Homo sapiens: one gene and its partners. The protein of the gene in region 1 interacts with the protein of each later gene in a biochemical or structural test. Each region holds a gene or a part of one and is shown in the gene's direction. Other genes may lie near its edges.

Region 1 (5,303 bases):
TCAGTGACAATGCTTTAAAAAAAATCAGAATTTATTTTTAAAAGTTGCCTCTTTTCTGTCAATCACTATACAAACTTCTGTGTGGTGGATGGGGGTAACGGTATTGTCCTGAGGCAATAGGGACATGACTTTGTTGATTGGACTGTTAATTTGTTTTATTTCTGGGTGATCTTTGACTTTCTTCTTTTCTTTCTGTTTTCTTTTCTTGAGACTCGTCTCACTCCGCTCCCAGGCTGCAGTGCAGTGGCAGGATCATGGCTTACCACAGCCTTGATCTCCTGGTCTTAGATGATCCTCCCACTTAAGCCTCTTCAATAGCTGGGACTGCAAGGTGCATGCCACCACACCCAGCTAATTTTTGTAGGGACGGGGTTTCGCCATGTTGCCCAGGCTGGTCTCAAACTCTTGACCTCACACAATCCACCCATTTCAGCCTCCCACAGTGCTGGGATCACAGGCGTGAGCCACTGTGCCCCGCCTGACCTTTGACTTTCAAAGGATGAAATTTAGTGTTGATATAACATCAGTGTTAGCATTCTCATCTAATGAAAATGTTAAAATAAGGTGGCTTGATTTGCATGACTGTTAATATGATGCTTTCTAACTTATAATGATCACTATTTACATTTGTAGATTTCTTAACCATTTGATTCTTACAGACATTTTTGTGAACTAGACAATATATTTTGCAGTCTAGAAACTGACTTAAATGACTTTCCTAAGGTAAAGCTGGTAAGAGGCAGAATTTGGATCTTGATTAGTGTAACATTCCCCTGTCTCTTGTTACTGTAAAATGACTAACTACAAATACAAGATGATTTTCTGGACTACTATTCACCCAGTTGCTATCTCATTTAGATTCCTGTATCTAATCCAGTAGCAAATTCTGTAGGTTCTGCTTTCAATATATGTACTAAATCAGACACTTTCCCCCCTGTCTTTCAAACCTCTGTTCACTTCCATCATTTACTGCCTGGCCTCCTGTATTAGCCTACTTTGGAGCAGCAGCTAGTGTTATCTTCTTAAAATATAGACCATGTTACTCCCCTGCTAAAAACTGTAGAGGTTCTCCATCACACTTACATTAGAATCTTGCCTTCCCCCCCACCCCTTAGCTATAAGGCCCTGCATTCATTTGGGATGCCTACTTCTGAGCGCATCTGCACTTCTCTCTCTGGGTCACTCCACTGTAGCCACACTGTTGCTTTGCTGTACCCTGAACAATAAGTGGTTGAGCTTATTCCAGTCACAGGACTTTCCTCCAGTTTGTTGCATTGCTTGCTTTGTCCAGTTGTTCCGTTCTTAGCTCATATGTCATACCCTCTACCTAACCTGTCCCGTATAAACCAGTTTCCCTTTTTCCTCCCCCACAATTTTATCCTCCTATCTCCCTTTCTTCTGTATAAGTGCTTATTACTGTTCGAAGTTATGTTATTTACTGTTTATTTCTCTCTATTCCCCATTAAACCTTCATGAAGTTAGGGACTCTTGGATATCCCGGGCATTGCTCATTCGTGCCTAGACCAATCCTTGGCACATAGTAGATACTGAAATATTAATAGACTAACTGAATAGATGAGCCTTAATCTCAATGAGCAATAATTTGACATTGTTACTCCTTGGTATATTCTGTCTGAACCAATGTCTGAGCTAAAAGTTAAAGCTAGTCTCGTTTTCCACCCATAAGCTCACTTAAAAAGGACATCAATCTTTTACATTATTTCTTTTTTGTGTGCCTACTCTGCTTATGTATCTTTTTTTATTAACTAGGAAATGCACACATAGAGCACATTTGAAAGGCTCTGAAGGATACGTAGAGAATCCCTCATCTGTCCTTCAGCATTCCAGTTCCCCTGCTTAGAAAACCACTGTTTTTGTTTGTTTGTTTGTTTGTTGAGACGGAGTCTCCCCCTGTTGCCCAGGCTGGAGTGCAGTGGTGCAATTTTGGCTCACTGCAAACTCCACCTCCCAGGTTCAAGTGATTCTCCTGCCTCAGTCTCTTAAGTAGCTGAGACTGCAGGCATGTGCCACCACACCTGGCTAATTTTTAGTAGAGATGGGGTTTCACCATGTTGGCCATGCTGGTCTCAAACTCCTCTTCTCAAGTGATCCACCTGCCTCAGCCTCCCAAAGTGCTAGGATTACAGGTGTGAGCCACTGCACCCGACTTCAACCACTATTTTTATTGTGTATCCTTACAAGAAGACCAGAGCAACTTTCTGCTATAAGTTAGGCGTCTTCTCCTTCTCATGCAAATACCTTGATTCCCTTCTCTTCCCCTCTAACCACCTATGTATCTTCAAGTTGACTTTTTTTTTTTTTTAAGAGACAGACTGCTGCTTTGTTGCCCAGGCTGGAGTGCAGTGGCTTTTCACAGGCGTGATCATAGTACACTATATACATACAGCCTCGAATTCCTAATATCAGGTGATCTCTACCTTCAGCCTCCAGTATCTGGGATTACAGACATGCATCATAGTGTTCTGCTTTGGCTCTTTTTTTTTTCTCAAAGGGCTGTTTAATGGAACCTTATGGTTAGACTTTATTTTATTTTTTCAAATATTGGAAATTTAATACTTTTTCAGTAGAGATGGGGTCTTGCCATGTTGCCTAGGCTGTTCTCGAGCTCCTAGGCTCAAGTGATTCTTCCACCTCGGCCTCCCAAAGTGCTAGGGTTAACAGGCATGAACCACCGTGCCTGGCCTAGACTTTATTGTAACTAATTGCTTATTCATAACTTTCAGAATGTTTCCTAAATTGTGCTATATAAAAAATGCTGTAACGAAGTTTTGTATGTATGGCATTTTGCACAAGTGTGAGTGATATTGAGTCTTAGTAGTTCTGTTTTAAGCTAGAATCTTTAGTTTCGTTTTTCTGCCTTATCTTCTGGACCAAAGCTCTTTTAGCCAATAAAAGTGACTGAAGCTGGGCATGGTGGTTCACACCTGTAATAACAGCTCTTTGGGAGACTGAGGCCCAAGGATTGCTTGAAGCCAGGAGTTGAGACCAGCCTGAGGAACATAGTGAGATCTCCATCTCCACCAAAAAAAAAAAAGTGAGCAGTTAAAGCTTAAAGTCATAAAGGTTAGGAGGTACCTAAAATGTCCCTCAAATGAGAGGTTCTGCATAATCCTGTCATAAAGGAGAATCACTTTCGGGAACCGATAAGTGAGATCTATAGTTATGGCCTTGGTCAAAACCAAATCTGTTTCAGCTTTACATGTTACGTTGATACAGTGACTGACATTCCTTTAATGGTCTTTTCAGAATTAATCATGAGGGCTGAGCACTGTGGCTCATGCCTATAATCTCAGTACTTTGGGAGGCTGAGGCGGGAGGATCCCCTGAGCCCAAGGTTTCAAGACTGGGCTGTACAACATAATGAGACCTTGTCTCTACAAAAAGATAAAATGAAAATTAGCCAGGTGTTGTGGCACACATCTGTAGTCCCAGCTACTCAGGAGACAGGTGGGAGGATTGGTTTGGCCCAGGAAGTTGAGGCTGCAGTGAGCCTAGATCGCGCCACTGCACTCCAGCCTGGGCGACAGAGTGAAACCCTGTCTCAAAATAGTAATAATGATAATAATGAAAATGATAAAATACAGTCTTGGGAAAAAGTAGTTAACTTACCCTAGGGGTTGACTTATTTGATTAAAACCTAGTGAGTCAACCTGCTGGAATTAGAATTTTACCAGTCTTTCGCAGAATTTACTTTATGTCTCCCTTCCCCACTGGTCCCTTGTCTATGGTGCTTAAAAATTTACTTAAGAAAATACATTTAATTAATTTTTTGAAACAGGGTCTCTGTCACCCAGGCTGAAGTGCAGTGGAAAAATTTACTCTTCTATTTGGTGTGATTTAGCCTCAAATTCTTAAAAATCAGATACAGTCTGATTTTACATTGAGACTTGAGTTTACTTTTTTAATAGGATTTTTTGAAGTACACACATTTTTTCCTGTTACTGTTTAAAAGCCACTCATTTGATAGGTATTCTAGTGCATAAGGTATTTTTTTTTGTAAGAAAAGTGATTTAGAAAACTCACCTTTTATTTATTTGAGACGGGAGTCTTGCTTTGTTGCCCAGCCTGGAGTGCAATGGCACAATCTCGGCTTACTACAACCTCTGCCTCCCAGGTTCAAGCAGTTCTCCTGCCTCAGCCACTGGAGTAGCTTTACTCTCTGCCTTGAACATTTTTTTTTTCTTATTTTGAGATGAAGTTTTGCTTTTGTTGCCCAGGCTGGAGTGCAATGGCGTGATCTCGGCTAACTGCAACCTCTGCCCCCTGGGTTCAAGCAATTCTCCTGCCTCAGCCTCCCTAGTAGCTGGGATTACAGGTGTATGCCACCACGCCCAGCTGATTTTTGTATTTTTAGTAGAGGCAGGGTTTCACCATGTTGGTCAGGCTGGTCTCGAACTCCTGACCTTTGGTGATCTGCCCACCTCGGCCTCCCAAAGTGCTGGAACTACAGGTGTGAGTCACCGCGCCTGTCCTATCTGTTGTTTTAAGCTCTGAAAATACTTGTCTGATAATGTTTTCTTCCAATTAAAAAAAGGCATGGAAAAGTTACCATGATGTTTCAGAAATATATGTACCTCCAGGTGGGGGCAGGGAAACTTAGCCAGGTATGGTGGTTCATGCAGTAATCCTAACAGAAGACTGAGGCAGGAAGATCCCTTGAATCCAGGAGGCCGGGGCTGCAGTGAGCTATTAGTGGCACCACTGCACCCCAGCCTGGGTAATAGAGGCAAGACCCTGTCTCTTAAATAAATAAATAAATAAATAAATAAATACAAACTCATTATGATGAAGACAGATTTGTTATAAGTTGTAATTAAAATCACCTTTGGAATTTAAGAAAAAACTTGTAAAAAATTTGACTAGGAACAGTGGTTCTTTAGTTCTTTCAGTTGTCTCACTTAAGAATTTTCTGACCTCTTCCTAGGAAAAAAAGCTATTTTTTTTAACGTATGACTTCTGGGGATTCAGATTCTTGCCAAGTTTATTTGTGGATTCCCTAGGTCTCCATGTGCTCCATGTTAAGAATCCTTGAACTGCTTTTGATAGTGATTAAACTTTCAGGCTCTAAAGATACTGTTTTAATATACTATCTAATGTTTTGATTATGAAATGTGAGCATAACTGAAAGTAAGTTAAAAATAGCAGTCAGTTCAGTATTCTTTTTTAAGCTCCTCTGTGTCAAGCAGTTCCTTTAGTCCAGATTGATCAACTCCTGCACAAGTGAAATTAAGTTTTGTCAAATTATCAAGTACTTTAGTATTCACTGTGCTAAATGACTGTGA
Region 2 (4,496 bases), on another chromosome or scaffold:
CTAAAGCTGTCTATTCTCCCCAACATGATTTATAAAAGGAGTGCAATCCTAATTAAAAGCACAACCAAATTCTTTATGGAATTCAACAAGCTGACTCTTAAGTTACACAAAATGTACAAAGATAGCTAAGAAAATTCTGAAGGAGGAGATCAGAACAGTGTAGACTACAGCAAGGATAATCAAATAGATTAATAGAAAAGGTGAGTCTTTGCAGGTTGGGTTTTCCAGAAGCAGCCACTGAGTTGGAGATTGGGGTGCAAGGAAGGAGTGGGAAGCAGGAATGAGCAGAGGAAGAAGTCAGAAGGCAACGAAGCCTGACAGCTCTGGCAGCCGGGAGCACTGAGCAAATGCCCCTCAGGCTTGTCCCACGTCAGACTGAAATGGCCAAGGCTTTATCCCCTCGCCTTTCTCAGTCACTGGCTCAGAAGGGGAGTACCTGGGGCAAAGGAGTTCACAGCTGCAGGCTGTTTGTTCACTCAGCTCCTTGCAACAGGGCAGCAAATCCCTCCTTGAGGGGGAATCTGAGAGGCCCATCACTGTGTCTACCACAAAGTCCAAAATCAATCCATGTATGTTTCTTAAGCCACACACAAAATTCGCAAGGTATAAAGAAAAAGATTATTGTATATGACTTCATGAAAATGGAAAGGTAGTCAAAAAGGAGAAATTGTGTTTAGCAAAGGATTAATATCCAGGATATTTAATAGAGTGCCTACAAATAAAAAACAAAAATAGGCCGGGTGCGGTGGCTGACGCCTGTAATCCCAGCACTTTGGGAGGCCGAGGCTGGTGGATCACGAGATCAGGAGATCGAGACCATCCTGGCTAACATGGTGAAACCCCATCTCTACTAAAAATACAAAAAATTAGCCAGGCGTGGTGGCAGGCACCTGCAGTCCCAGCTACTTGGGAGGCTGAGGCAGGAGAATGGTGTGAACCCAGGAGGCGGAGCTTGCAGTGAGCCGAGATGGAGCCACTGCACTCCAGCCTGGGTGACAAAGTGAGACTCCGTCTCAAAAAAACAAACAAAAAAACCAAAATAAAAGAAAAATAATAGACAAAGAACATAGACAATTCAAAAAAGAAACTGAACAACATACTTCAGAAAAGATATTTGGCCTCGCCAACAGAGAAAGGCAAAATGAACCCGTTACAATTTTTCATCCATTAGATTGAAATTTTTGAAAGATTAGTGATACAGTGTGTTGGTGAAAATGCAGAATAACAAGCAGTCTTCTGCAGTGTTGGTAAGAGTGGCGAAGTTTATTAGAAGGTGAGGCACCCAACAAACTCCACAAGCCCATAAGTTTGGCTGCAGTTCTACTCTCAGTAATCTATACTGCTCACGTGCACTCAAAGATGTAGTTTCCATTCTTTGCACCTTAGTTTATAAGAGTGAAAAATTAGAAACAACTCAAATGTCCATAAGTAACTGCCCTAAATTATGATTCATCTAAACTACAGAATACTAATAGCCATTTAAAAGAAAGAGGTGGAAACTAACATGTAATGATATAGAAAGATCTTCAAGATTAGCTGTTAGTGAAAAAAATAAGTCACAAAACAATACTTACAGTGTGGTCCTTTTAATGTTAAAGATATATATATTTTGGCCTGGTGCAGTGGCTCATGCCTGTAATTCCAGCACTATGGGAGGCGGAGTTGTACAGATCACTTGAGGTGAGGAGTTGGAGACCAGCTGGCCAACATGGTAAAACCCCGTCTCTACTAATAATACAAAAAAAACTGGCCAGGTATGGTGGTGCATGTCCATAATCCCAGCTACTCAGGAGGCTGAGGCATGAGAATTGCTTGAACCCGGGAGGTGGAGGTTGCAGTGAGCCAAGATTGTGCCACTACACTCCATCCTGGGCAACAGAGTGAAACTGTGTCTCAAATATATATATATTTCTGGAATGTGTGTGCAAATTCCTAGAGAGAGAATAAGAGTGATATGCATCACACTCTGGATAAGGCTTACCTCTAGAGAATGGAAGAGTAGGTGCTGAAGGAATGTTTGGATGTTATTCTATGTGATTCTGCATTGTTTGAATCTTTGGGGGTTTTTTTGGTTTTCTTTTTGAGACGGTCTTACTCTGTCACCCAGGCTGGAGTGCAGTGACACAATCTGGGCTCACTACAACCTCCACCTCCCGGGTTCAAGTGATTCTCGTGCCTCAGCCTCCCGAGTAGCTGGGATTACAGGCGTGTACCACCACACCCAGCTAATTTTTTTGTACTTTTAGTAGAGATGGGGTTTCACCATGTTGGCCAGGCTGGTCTTGAACTCCTGACCTCAAGCGATCTGCTCGCCTCGGCCTCCTAGAGTGCTGGGATTACAGGCGTGAGCCACCATGTCTGGCCTGTTTGAATCTTTCAAAAGGACTTTGTACTTAACATATTTGTGTAATAAAAATAACTATAAAAAGAAAATCAATTTGATAAAATTAAAATAACAAAAATACTTTTCATATTAGGCTAAGCAGGGTGGCTCGTGCCTGTAATCTCAGCACTTTGGGAGGCTGAGGTGGGTGGATTTCTTGAGGCCAGTTCAAAACCAGCAACATGGCAAAAACCGATCTCTACAAAAAACACAAAAATTAGCCAAGCGTGGTGGCGCATGCCTGTTGTCCCAGCTACACAGGAGGCTGAGGTGGCAGGCTCTCTTGAGCCTGGAGGTTGAGCCTGCACTCTAGCCTGGAGGACACAGTGAGACTCTGTCTCAAGAAAAAAAACAACAAAAAACCCTTTTCATGTTAATTAAAAACAATAAACATACAGCTGGGTGAGGTGGCTCATGCCTGTAATCCCAGCTCTTTGGGAGGACAAGCTGGGAGGATTGCTTGAGCCCAGGAGTTGGAGGTTTCAGTGAGCTATGACCATGCCACTGCACTCCTGCCTGGGCGACAGAGGCAGATTTGATCTCTAAAAATAAACATGCAAAGAGACAAAAACAATATATAGAATGCTACAAAGTGTGAACATAATTAATACCCTCTGTCATTCTCCCCTAGATCATGCATGTATTCATTTAGCTAGTATTTTTGACCACTTATTTATATAGCAGACAATCGTTAACAGCAAAATACAAATAAAACTAGGAAAAAAAAAACTTGAAGGAAAAATACCAAAGTGTTAACATTTTATCTTTGGGTGTAGGGCAAAACTATGGATAGGTTTTAAGAATATATAATTTTCTATGTTTTCTATAATGAGGATTATTGCTCCTATAAGGAAAAAGTTTTTTACTGTGGCAAAATATACTTAACATAAAATTCTCTATTTTAACCATTTTTAAGTGAACAATCCAGTGGCATTAAGTACATTCATAATGTTGTGCGGCCATTACCACTATCTATATCTAGAACTTTTTTATCATCCCAAACTGAAACTCTGTACCTGCTAAACGGTAACTCCCCATTCCTCCCTCTCCCAGCCCCTGGTAGCTTCTATTCTGTTTTCTGTCTCTGAATTCTAGGTAGCTCCTAGCAAAAGGATCACACAATGTATTTCCTTTGGAGTCTGGCATATTTCACTTAGCATAATGTTTTCAAGGTTCATCTGTTTCATAGCATGTATCAGAATTTCATTCCCTTTTATGGCTGAATAACATTCCATCATATGGATATACAGGTTGAACATCCCTAAACCCAAAATCCAAAATTCAAAATCCTCCAAAATCTGAAACGTTTTGAGTGCCAGCATGATGCCACAAGTGGAAAATACCACACCTGACACCTCTGCTTTCTGATAGTTCAGTATCCTCAAACTTTGTTTCATGCACAAAATTATTAAAATATGGTATAAAGTGACCTTCAGGCTATGTGTATAAGGTGCATATGAAACACAAATAAACTTCATGTTTAGACTTAGGTCCTCTCCCCACGATCTGTCATTCTGTACATGCAAATATTCCCAAATTGGAAACAATCCAAAATCCAAAACACTTCTAATCCCAAGCATTTTGGATAAGGGATACTACACCTGCACCATATTTTGAGTTCCTGCCTTCAGTTCTTTGGGGTATATATATCCGGGTGTGGAATTGCTAGATCATATGGTAATTCTATGTATAACTTTTTGTTTTTCTGAGACAGAGTCTCCCTCTGTTGCCCAGGCTGGAATGCAGTGGCACCATCTCGGCTCACTGCAACCTCCGCCTCCCGGGTTCAAGCGATTCTCCTGCCTCACCTTCCCGAGTAGCTGGGATTACAGGCATACACCACCACGCCCGGCTAGTTTTTTGTATTTTTAGTAGAGATGGGGTGGTTTCACCATGTTGTCCAGGCTGGTCTCAAACTCCTAACCTCAGGTGATCTGAGGTCCCAAAGTGCTGGGATTACAGGCGTGAGCTCCCATGCCCGGCCATGTTTAACTTTTAAGTACTGTTAAAATTGTTTTACATGGTAGCTACACCATTTTATATTCCCCACCAGCAATGCACAAGGATTCTAATTTCTCCACCATCTTACCAACACTTTTTATTTACCATTTTT
Region 3 (4,496 bases), on another chromosome or scaffold:
ACTGCTATATGGTTGTTTAGGTTGAGCACTGCATAAGGACATTGTATTAAGTGAGCACTATTCATATCATAGACATTGTAGGTTTATATATTTATTAGGACACTCTTATTTTTATTTTTTATTTTTTGAGATGGAGTCTTACTCTGTCACCCAGGCTGGAGTGCAGTGGCAGGATCTTGGCTCACTGCAAGCTCCGCCTCCTGGGTTCATGCTATTCTCCTGCCTCAGCCTCCCGAGTAGCTGGGACTACAGGCACCCGCCACCACGCCTGGCTAATTTTTTCTATTTTTCAGTAGAGACAGGGTTTCACCGTGTTAGCCAGGATGGTCTTGATCTCCTGACCTTGTGATCCACCTGCCTTAGCCTCCCAAAGTGCTGGGATTACAGGCGTGAGCCACCGCGCCTGGTCTTTTTTTTAAAGGCAGGGTCTCACTCTGTCACCCAGGCTGGAGTGCAGTGGCATGATCATAGCTCACTGCAGCCTTGTAGGCTCAAGCAATCCTCCAATCTCAGCCTCCCATAGCTGGGACTACAGGCGCTTACCTGGCTAGTTTTTGTATTTTTAGTAGAGATGGGGGTCTCATTATGTTGCCCAGACTGGTCTCAAATGCCTGGGCTCAAACAATCTGCCTGCCTTGGCCTCCCAAAGTGCTGGGATTACAGGCATGAGTCACCGCACCCGGCCTATTAGGACAGTTTTCTAACAGGTGGAATCAGAGTTTCTTGGAGGCAAAGATACCTTTTTGTAATCCACATAAAAGTGAAGGGGTAGGGGTGGCCTTGAGTTCTAGGTCTCTTTTGCGTTTTTTTTTTTTTTTTTTTTTTTTTTTTTTGAGACAGGGCTTTGCTCTGTTGCCCAGGCTGGAGTGCAGTGGCATGACTTCGGCTCACTGAAACCTCCTTCTCCCGGGTTCAAGTGATTTTCGTGGCTCAGCCTCCCAAGTAGCTGGGATTACAGGTGCCTGCCACCATGCCCAGCTATTTTTTTTGTATTTTTAGTAGAGATGGGGTTTCACCATGTTGGCCAGGCTGGTCTCGAACTCCTGGCCTCAAGCAATCCACACACCTTGGCCTCCCAAAGTGTTGAGATTACAGGCATGAGCCACCTCGTCTGGCCTCTTTTAGCTTTTCTGATTCTTTCTGACGTTGCACTCAGCATTCCTAGTTGTCTACCCCATCCTCAAAAGTTTCCAGTGTCCCCACCATCGGCTTCACCACCATTCTCTTTTTCTCTCTCTCCAGAAATACTGCCTGGTGACCAGCAGGTGAGAGCAACCTGGCCCTGTCCCTTTGCCCGACTTGTCCCAGTCTTCTAGGGACACCAGCCGGCTCACTCTCCACTCACTATTGTGCCTGCACACCCGCAATTCAGTCTGCTGCCCCACCCCTGCCTGAACACAAGGTTGTAGACAGAAATGATCTGGAAGGATCCTTTCACTCAGGGACCTCCTAGATTGGTGCCGTGAGACACATGTGGGTGGGGACACAGGCGTCACTGTGTGCTCAGTGTGGCCGTTGAGGGAAAGAGGTGGCCAGGGATGGAGTGAATGTTTGAGTTGGGGCCTGGAGGGATGAACAGGAGCTGGCTAGGCAAAGCGTTGGGAGAAGAAGGGCATTGTGAGGAGAAAGGCATTGCGGGGAGAAGGGCATTGCTGAGAGAAGAAGGGTATTGCTGGGAGAAGAACATTGCTGGGAAAAGAAGGGCATTGCTGGGAGAAGGGCATTATGGGGAGAAGGGCATTGCGGGGAGAAGGGCACTGCTGGGAGAAGGGCATTGCTGGGAGAAGGGCATTTCTGGGAGAAGAAGGACATTGCTGGGAGAAGAAGGGCATTGCTGGGAGAAGGGCATTATGGGGAGAAGGGCATTGCAGGGAGAAGGGCATTGTGGGGAGAAGGGCATTGTGGGGAGAAGGGCACTGCGGGGAGAAGGGCATTGCTGGGGAGAAGGGCATTGGGAGAAGGGCATTGCTGGGAGAAGGGCATTGCTGGGAGAAGAAGGGCATTGCTAGGAGAAGGGCATTGCTGGGAGAAGAAGGGCATTGTGGGGAGAAGGGCATTGCGGGGAGAAAGGCATTGCTGGGAGAAGAAGCGCACTGTGGGGAGAAGGGCATTGCTGGGAGAAGGGCATTGCTGGGAGAAGGGCATTGCGGGGAGAAGGGTATTGCTGGGAGAAGAAGGGCATTGCAGAGAGAAGGGCATTGTGGGGAGAAGGGCATTGCAGGGAAAAGGGCGTTGCTGGGAGAAGGGTGTTGCTGGCAGAAGGGTGTTGCTGGGAGAAGGGCATTGCTGGGAGAAGGGTGTTGCTGGGAGAATGGCATTGCTGGGAGAGGGGACAGCCAGCGAGAGGGCTGGCGAGTGGGAGGGAAGAGGAAGCTGCGGTAGTAGGTGTGTGCACACTGGCGAAGCTGAGAGGCTTGGACCTTATCCCAACAGAAGGATTAAAAGAAAATGTAGTTGGGCCGGGTGCAGTGGCTCACGCCTGTCATCCAAGCACTTTGGGAGGCTGAGGCGGGCAGATCACCTGAGGTCAGCAGTTCGAGACTAGCCTGGCCAACATGGCAAAACCTCACCTCTACTAAAAACACAAAAATTAGCCAGGCATGGTGGTAGGCGCCTATAATCCCAGCTACTTGGTTGGCTGAGGCAGGAGAATTGCTTGAACTGGGGAGGCAGAGGCTGCAGTGAGCCAAGATCATGCCACTACACCCCAGCCTGGGTGATAGAGCCAGACTCAATCTCAAAAAAAAAAAAAAAAGACCAAAACCAAATAAACAGTGGTAAAATAATACATGTAACATAAAATTGACAATTTTCAGCTTCTTCTTCTTCTTTTTTTTTTTTTTTTAGACAGGATCTTGCTATGTTGCCCAGACTGGACTCAAATTTCTGAGCTCCAGTGAGCCTCCTGAGTCAGCCTCCCTGAGCAGCTGGGACTACACTCTACCTCGCTCATTTTAAGCATTTTTAAGTGTGCATTTAAATTCAGTGGTGCTAAGTACATTCACATTGTACAACCATCACCAGTGTTTATCTCCAGAATTTTCTCATCTTCCCAAACCAAAACTCCAAAGGAAGAGTTTTAAGCAGGGGTGCGATGTGGGGAGATCCTGGAATCCCCCCAGCCCTTGTCCTCCCCCCTCACACATGCCTCCCCTTCCCCTCCCCACCCCCAGGCTGCAGAAGATCCTGGCAGAGTCTCCCCCACCCGCCCGTCTGGACATCCAGCTGCCAATTATCTCAGATGACTTCAAATTCCAGGTGTGGAGGAAGATGTTCCGGGCTCTGATGCCAGGTACCGGGAGGGACTGGCTCAGGTTTGTGTGTGACCAGGCAGTTGATGGGAGGCCCTAGCCACCCTGGAGAGGCCTCCCAGTCCCAACTGGGGAGGCCACTGAAGGAGGTACCCATTGCCCCTTTGCCTCTGGACTGCCGCTGCAGTCCTCTAACCTGTGTTGGGAGGAGGGCCTTTGAGAGCATGGGGTTTGCAGTGGGTGACTGACATGAAAATGCTGCTGCTGTTGGTGGCACGGGACGCTGGGGCCTAGGTCTGAGCCACTGACTTGCTGTGTGATCCTTGGTCAGTCTCTGCCCCTCTCTGGACGGTGGAGATGATAAATCCTGCCAATTGGGGACTGAGGCTCTGCAGAGCTCCTGGAACCCTGGGGACTGGCCTGGGTCAGAGAGTGACTCTGGCGGCCTGTGGCTGGGGAGGCCCAAGGGCTCAGTTCCTCCCCCCAAGAGCTGGATGATGCAGGTTACAGAGCTCTGGGACATACACATTGCTGGGGCAGCCCTTCCTGCCTCAGCGCAGGTGGGAATGCAGACAGCCTCATTTTATTCAAGATAAAACTAAGGCTCAGAGACTGGGTCTAGGCTGATGTGAAGATCAGGCTCCTTGACCTTGGGCCTTGGGCCTTGTCTGGGCCTCAGATGGTGAGTCCCATGCCTTGTATCAATTTAGTCCTGTTGGCCAGGCTCGGTGGCTCACGCTTGTAATCCCAGAACTTTGGGAGGCCGAGGTGGGAGGATCACTTGAGCCCAGGAGTTGGAGACCAGCCTGGGCAACATAGTGAGAACACCTGTCTCTACAAAAACTTAAAAAAATTAGCCAGGTGTGGTGGCACGTGGCTGTAGTCCCAGCTACTTGGGAGATGGGAGATGGGAGGATTGCTTGAGCCTGGGAGTTGGAAGTTGCAGTGAGCCTAGGTTGCACCTGCGCTCCAGCCTGGGCGACAGAGTGAGACCCCGCCTCAAAAAAACAAAAAACAAAAACAAAAAACAACAACAATAACAACAACAAAAACAAAAAGAAAATGCAGGCCTGCCTGCAACCCTGGAGGGAAGCAATCATGGCCTCATCTCACAGCTGGGCAAACTGAAGTTGAGCCAGGTGTGATCTTGTGGCCCAAGCCCAGTGAGCAGAGATGCCAAGAGGATTAGGGGAGAGAAAGCTGGCCTGCAATTGGTTGGGAGAAGACCCCAGCGAGGCAGAAACC
Region 4 (4,496 bases), on another chromosome or scaffold:
CTCTCCCTCCTGGCTTCTCTCTTTGAGGAGCTTTCCCTTGCATCCTCTACTTCTCCATTTAATTAGTGGCAGTAGAGGGCAGGCCCTGAGTTGCAGAGACGCAGACATTCCTAAACAAAGGGGCTGCTTGGGTTGACGTATTGTGGGGGGTGGGGGTGAGGACAGCTGCATTTCATCCTAGGTTCTTTTAAAAAATGTTTTAATAACATGATTATTTGTAAAAACTCCCCCGAAAAAACGATTTTAAGAGTGTTTTGGGAAGTGCAGCTGGATAAATGAAACACGTTAATGTCACTGTTGTTTGTGCTTTATTTACATTGGCAGTGAGTGTCAGAATCTACCTAGAGCACATCTTGCCACTTTTGTCCACAGGAGTCACTACTAATCATCATAACTGATGTCTAGTGTGAAAGTGAAGCTTGGAATGTAAACAGAGTCCGAGTGTGTGTTGGCATGTGACTGGATTCACTCCTGCATGTTGCTAGAAGGGAATTTGGGGCTGTATAGGAAATAGCAAGAGGTGATGAAGACACCTTTTATTATCTATTTATTGCCATGTCGCTGGTAGTATTTAGTTCCACACACATTGTATTTCACAAGATGAGTCTCAGCCGTCTTCCTTTTTCAACTTTCTCCTACCAGTGAAAAAATAAGCCAGGGCAGTTCTGATGACTTCACATTTCATTGGTATTTGTTTTTCATGGGCAGTTTCATGCTGTCACGTTGCCCTTCAGAGAATCAGGGAATGCCTTCGTAGAATATTAACGACAAATTGTTGAATTTGCACAGCTTGTTTTGTCTCCCTGAATTAGTATGTGTAAGAAAAACCAATGGAAGATTTTAGCAGGCTCTGAAAGTAGAATGCCCGCTGAAGCAAACGGCAGGGTTGTTCTTCCAAGGCGTATTAAATATGGGTACACTTAGTTTGCAGACTTGGTGTGCTGCAGAATATCACATATGAAGATATTTTGACCGCTATTTAGAAGAGTGACCTCATAAATCTTTTAGCAAAGTAGACACACATACCTACCACATTTCTTAAAAGTAGATTCGTATTTTGATTTGAGATTGTTGAAAAGCATGGTATGTTTGGAGTGCACTTAGTTATGTCCCATCTCATAAAGACTGTTGAGCTCTCTGCACTGCTGATGATGAAGCATTGCATGAACCCAGAAAACGGGGATGCCAAAGCACAGGGCTTAGGTGCTGTTCCTTGCGTCATCAGCAGAGGTCTGTCCACTTTGTAGAAGGTAAGGGGTTGAGATGTGGGCTTTGCTTGTGTGAATGTATGTGCTGTTTAATTTTTTCTGTGTGTTTCGGGCGGAGGTTTCTCTGGTGAGTTATAATTCATATTTACCCTGATTTAAGTCATGTCACTTTAGGTAGCCAGATTCAAAACCATCAGATGAAGGACTTTTGGTGTTAGAGGGATTAGCAGTTTAACAAAACTTCTGATTCATGGCCCAAGATCAGATTTGGTTTGGAATCAGAACACTTTGGACTAGTTTCTGCATCTGGCTTGAGTCCTTGTGGATTTCTTGTTTTATTTCTTTATTTTTGGCAATCTGTAGTGCATTTTGGCATAGTTTACTTATGAATGTTACCGCTAACTTTCTGAAATCTTTTATTCCATTTTAGAAAGGTATCATTTATTGAAAAGATTTTTCTACTGAACAAAATACTGGGATTGAATGGCAGCTTCTTATCACATTAGATATGACATTAAGTAATTTCGTTAGTAGTTAAAATGAAGCAAATGGCATAGAAATGAAGGCCAGGCTGACATAGGATAAATGGCACCTTCTCTCCTTATCCTGTACAAACACGGATAGTTGGCTACTTTTGAATGCCTCTTCTATACCAATGGTAAAAATCCGGCTTAATTGGGGCCACATTCTAGCCTAGTCACAATCAGTGGCTTGCATTATGTCCTTTGAGATGTGGCAGATCTGCTTATAGGTGCCAGTCACCACGGCTCCCTGCTGGCTTGGGGGTCTTTCTACTCATTTACATATAATTATCTACTTCTTAATCAACCATTAAGGTTAACTTTTGGCATGGATCCTGTATGCTTTTCAGTTTAAGATGCTGTCACTTTTAAGATGCGCCATGAGAGCAAAGTGCTAAGCCTTGTGCACATACTATGTCATTTAGTTCTCATGAGAACTGTGTGAGGTAGGCTGTGATTTACAGATGAGGAATGAAAGCTCAAAGAGGTTACGTGACCTGCATAAGGACACAAAACAAGTTAAGTTATGGAGCCAGCTATTTTGAATAGAAAGGCCTAGTTTTTAACATGCTGAATATCCTCCCCTTCTGACAAATGCCTTGAAAGGTCTTACTATCTAGATTATTTAAGATAATGTAAGAGAAATAAACACCACTGGTTGCAAACTGATGGCTGCTGGGCCCGATTTGACCAGGAACCCTGCTTAATGTGGTCTCTAGAGTGTTTTAAAGCTTGGAAATTTCATGAAAATGGTAAAAATCTGGCTTAATTGGGGCCACATTCTAACCTAGTTACAGTCAGTGGCTGGCATTATGTCCTTTGAGATGTGGCAGCTAGTTGTGCTATGGTTGCAGTCACCACTACTTTCTGTTGTCTTAGGGGTCTTTCTACTTGTTTACATATAATTATCCACTTCATAACAAACCTTTAAGGCTAACCTTTGGCGTGGATGCCATATTTCTTTCACTTTAGTGTGCTGTCACTTTTAAGATATGCCATTATTTCATGTACCACGAAGAAAAAATTGCTGTCAAGTTATGACATACTGTCCATCTTATGAAGCATCCTTATTTCAGAGAAGTTGAAATATGAGAAAAAGGATATTTTAGAATTGATGAATTACAGTGACTAGAAACCTGGGAAAACTCCATGCCATCAGTTTCAATATCCCCAATCATTCAGTACTTTTAAGTCAACGAGTAGTCAGATTTCTGCTTTTCTGTGTTTGAGGAAAGTGCTAGAAAAAGAGAAGTGCTCTTAAATAGGCATTAGCACAGAAGGAACTGGGGGCCTAGATCATAGCCAACTGGATGGCCGTCTGTAAGTGATTAAGAATAGTTGTTAGTTTTTAAAAAGTGGCCTGTGTGTATTTTCAAGAGATTACTTGGGAAACCCTATGTGCCATCTTTGCAGCTGTGCAAAACGGTGAGGACAAGATTGCTTTCAAAAATTGTGGTTTAGATTTTGCTTGGATCTCAAGGTGAATGCTGACAGGCCGTTTTCTGAAGAGAGAGAAGGCTTGCCCAGTCATGCCAAGTCCAAGTGCCTGTGTCGGGCCTAGATGCTGGATGGTAGACTGTATACCCAGGACATATAGGTAATGTTTGAGAAACAAATGTTAAAAGGACCTAGTTTTCATGGTGACATTTAAAATCAGTTTTTAAAATTCATGAATATAACATGTTGTTTTAAAATTTGATTATAGGGACCGGGTGCAGTGATCACTCCTGTAATCCTAGCATTTTGGGAGGCCGAGGCAGGAGAATCACTTGAGTTCAGGAGTTTGAGGCCAGGCTGGGCAACGTGGTGAAACCCCGTCTCTACAAAAAATAGAAAAGTTAGCCAAACATGGCGGCACGTGCCTGTAGTCCCAGCTACTTGGGAGGCTGAGGTGGAAGGATCACTTAAACCTGGAGGCAGAGGTTGCAGTGAGCCAAGATCATGCCACTGCACTCTAGCCTGGGCGACAGAGTGAGACCCTGTCTCCAAAAAAAAAAAAAAAAAAAAAAAGACTAATGAATAGAATTTATTTTCTTCAATGATGTAGTGTCTGTGGAATTTGTAGACATTGACATTTGAATTTTCATTATATTTAGTTTTATTAAATCAGAATGTTATGATTGTTTATTTCATTATTGAACATCAGTTTCCTTAATTTAAGGAATAAAAATAATTTTGCTCAGGCCAGACATAGTGGCTCACATCTGTAATCCCAGCACGTTGGAGGCCAAGGCTGGTGGATCACTTGAGGTCAGGAGTTTGAGACCAGCCCAGCCAACATGGTGAAACCCTGTCTCTACAAAATAAATAAATAAATAAATGAAAAAAAAATCAGCTGGGTGTGGTGGTGGACACCTGTAATCCCAGCTACTCTGGAGGCTGAGGCAGGAGAATAGCTTGAACCCTGAAGGCAGAGATTGCAGTGAGCCGAGATCGCACCACTGCACTCCAGACTGGGTGACAGAGTGAGACTCTGTCACAATAATAACAGGCTGGGGCAGTGGCTCATGCCCGTAATCCCAGCACTTTGGGAGGCCGAGGCTGGAGGATCACCTGAGGTCAGGAGTTTGAGACCAGCCTGGCCAACATGGTGAAACTCCGTCTTTACTAAAAATACAAAAATTAGCTGGGCTTGGTGGCAGGCAACTGTAATCCCAGTTACTCGGGAGGCTGAGGCAGGAGAATTGCTTGAACCTGGGAGGCAGAGGTTGCAGTGAGACAAGTTCGGGCCATTGTGCTCCAGCCTGGGCAACAAGAGCAAAACTAA

The links. The genes of interacting proteins can lie anywhere in the genome.
Region 2: of the proteins of UBE2N (region 1) and RIPK1, one has a biochemical effect on the other in vitro, tested with the Homo sapiens proteins (one study listed by BioGRID).
Region 3: the proteins of UBE2N (region 1) and TRIM72 form a complex in vitro, tested with the Homo sapiens proteins (one study listed by BioGRID).
Region 4: the proteins of UBE2N (region 1) and NEDD4L form a complex in vitro, tested with the Homo sapiens proteins (one study listed by BioGRID).

What each region holds. Positions count from the first base shown.
Region 1 is NC_000012.12:93,434,381-93,439,683, reverse strand, and holds part of UBE2N (ubiquitin-conjugating enzyme E2 N), read left to right. Parts: intron 1-5,303. UniProt on the Homo sapiens protein: The UBE2V1-UBE2N and UBE2V2-UBE2N heterodimers catalyze the synthesis of non-canonical 'Lys-63'-linked polyubiquitin chains. This type of polyubiquitination does not lead to protein degradation by the proteasome.
Region 2 is NC_000006.12:3,098,529-3,103,024, forward strand, and holds part of RIPK1 (receptor-interacting serine/threonine-protein kinase 1), read left to right. Parts: intron 1-4,496. UniProt on the Homo sapiens protein: Serine-threonine kinase which is a key regulator of TNF-mediated apoptosis, necroptosis and inflammatory pathways.
Region 3 is NC_000016.10:31,219,654-31,224,149, forward strand, and holds part of TRIM72 (tripartite motif-containing protein 72), read left to right. Parts: intron 1-1,242; coding exon 1,243-1,265; intron 1,266-3,173; coding exon 3,174-3,292; intron 3,293-4,496. UniProt on the Homo sapiens protein: Muscle-specific E3 ubiquitin-protein ligase that plays a central role in cell membrane repair by nucleating the assembly of the repair machinery at injury sites.
Region 4 is NC_000018.10:58,046,261-58,050,756, forward strand, and holds part of NEDD4L (E3 ubiquitin-protein ligase NEDD4-like), read left to right. Parts: intron 1-965; exon of another isoform or gene 966-1,250; intron 1,251-4,496. UniProt on the Homo sapiens protein: E3 ubiquitin-protein ligase that mediates the polyubiquitination of lysine and cysteine residues on target proteins and is thereby implicated in the regulation of various signaling pathways including autophagy, innate immunity or DNA repair.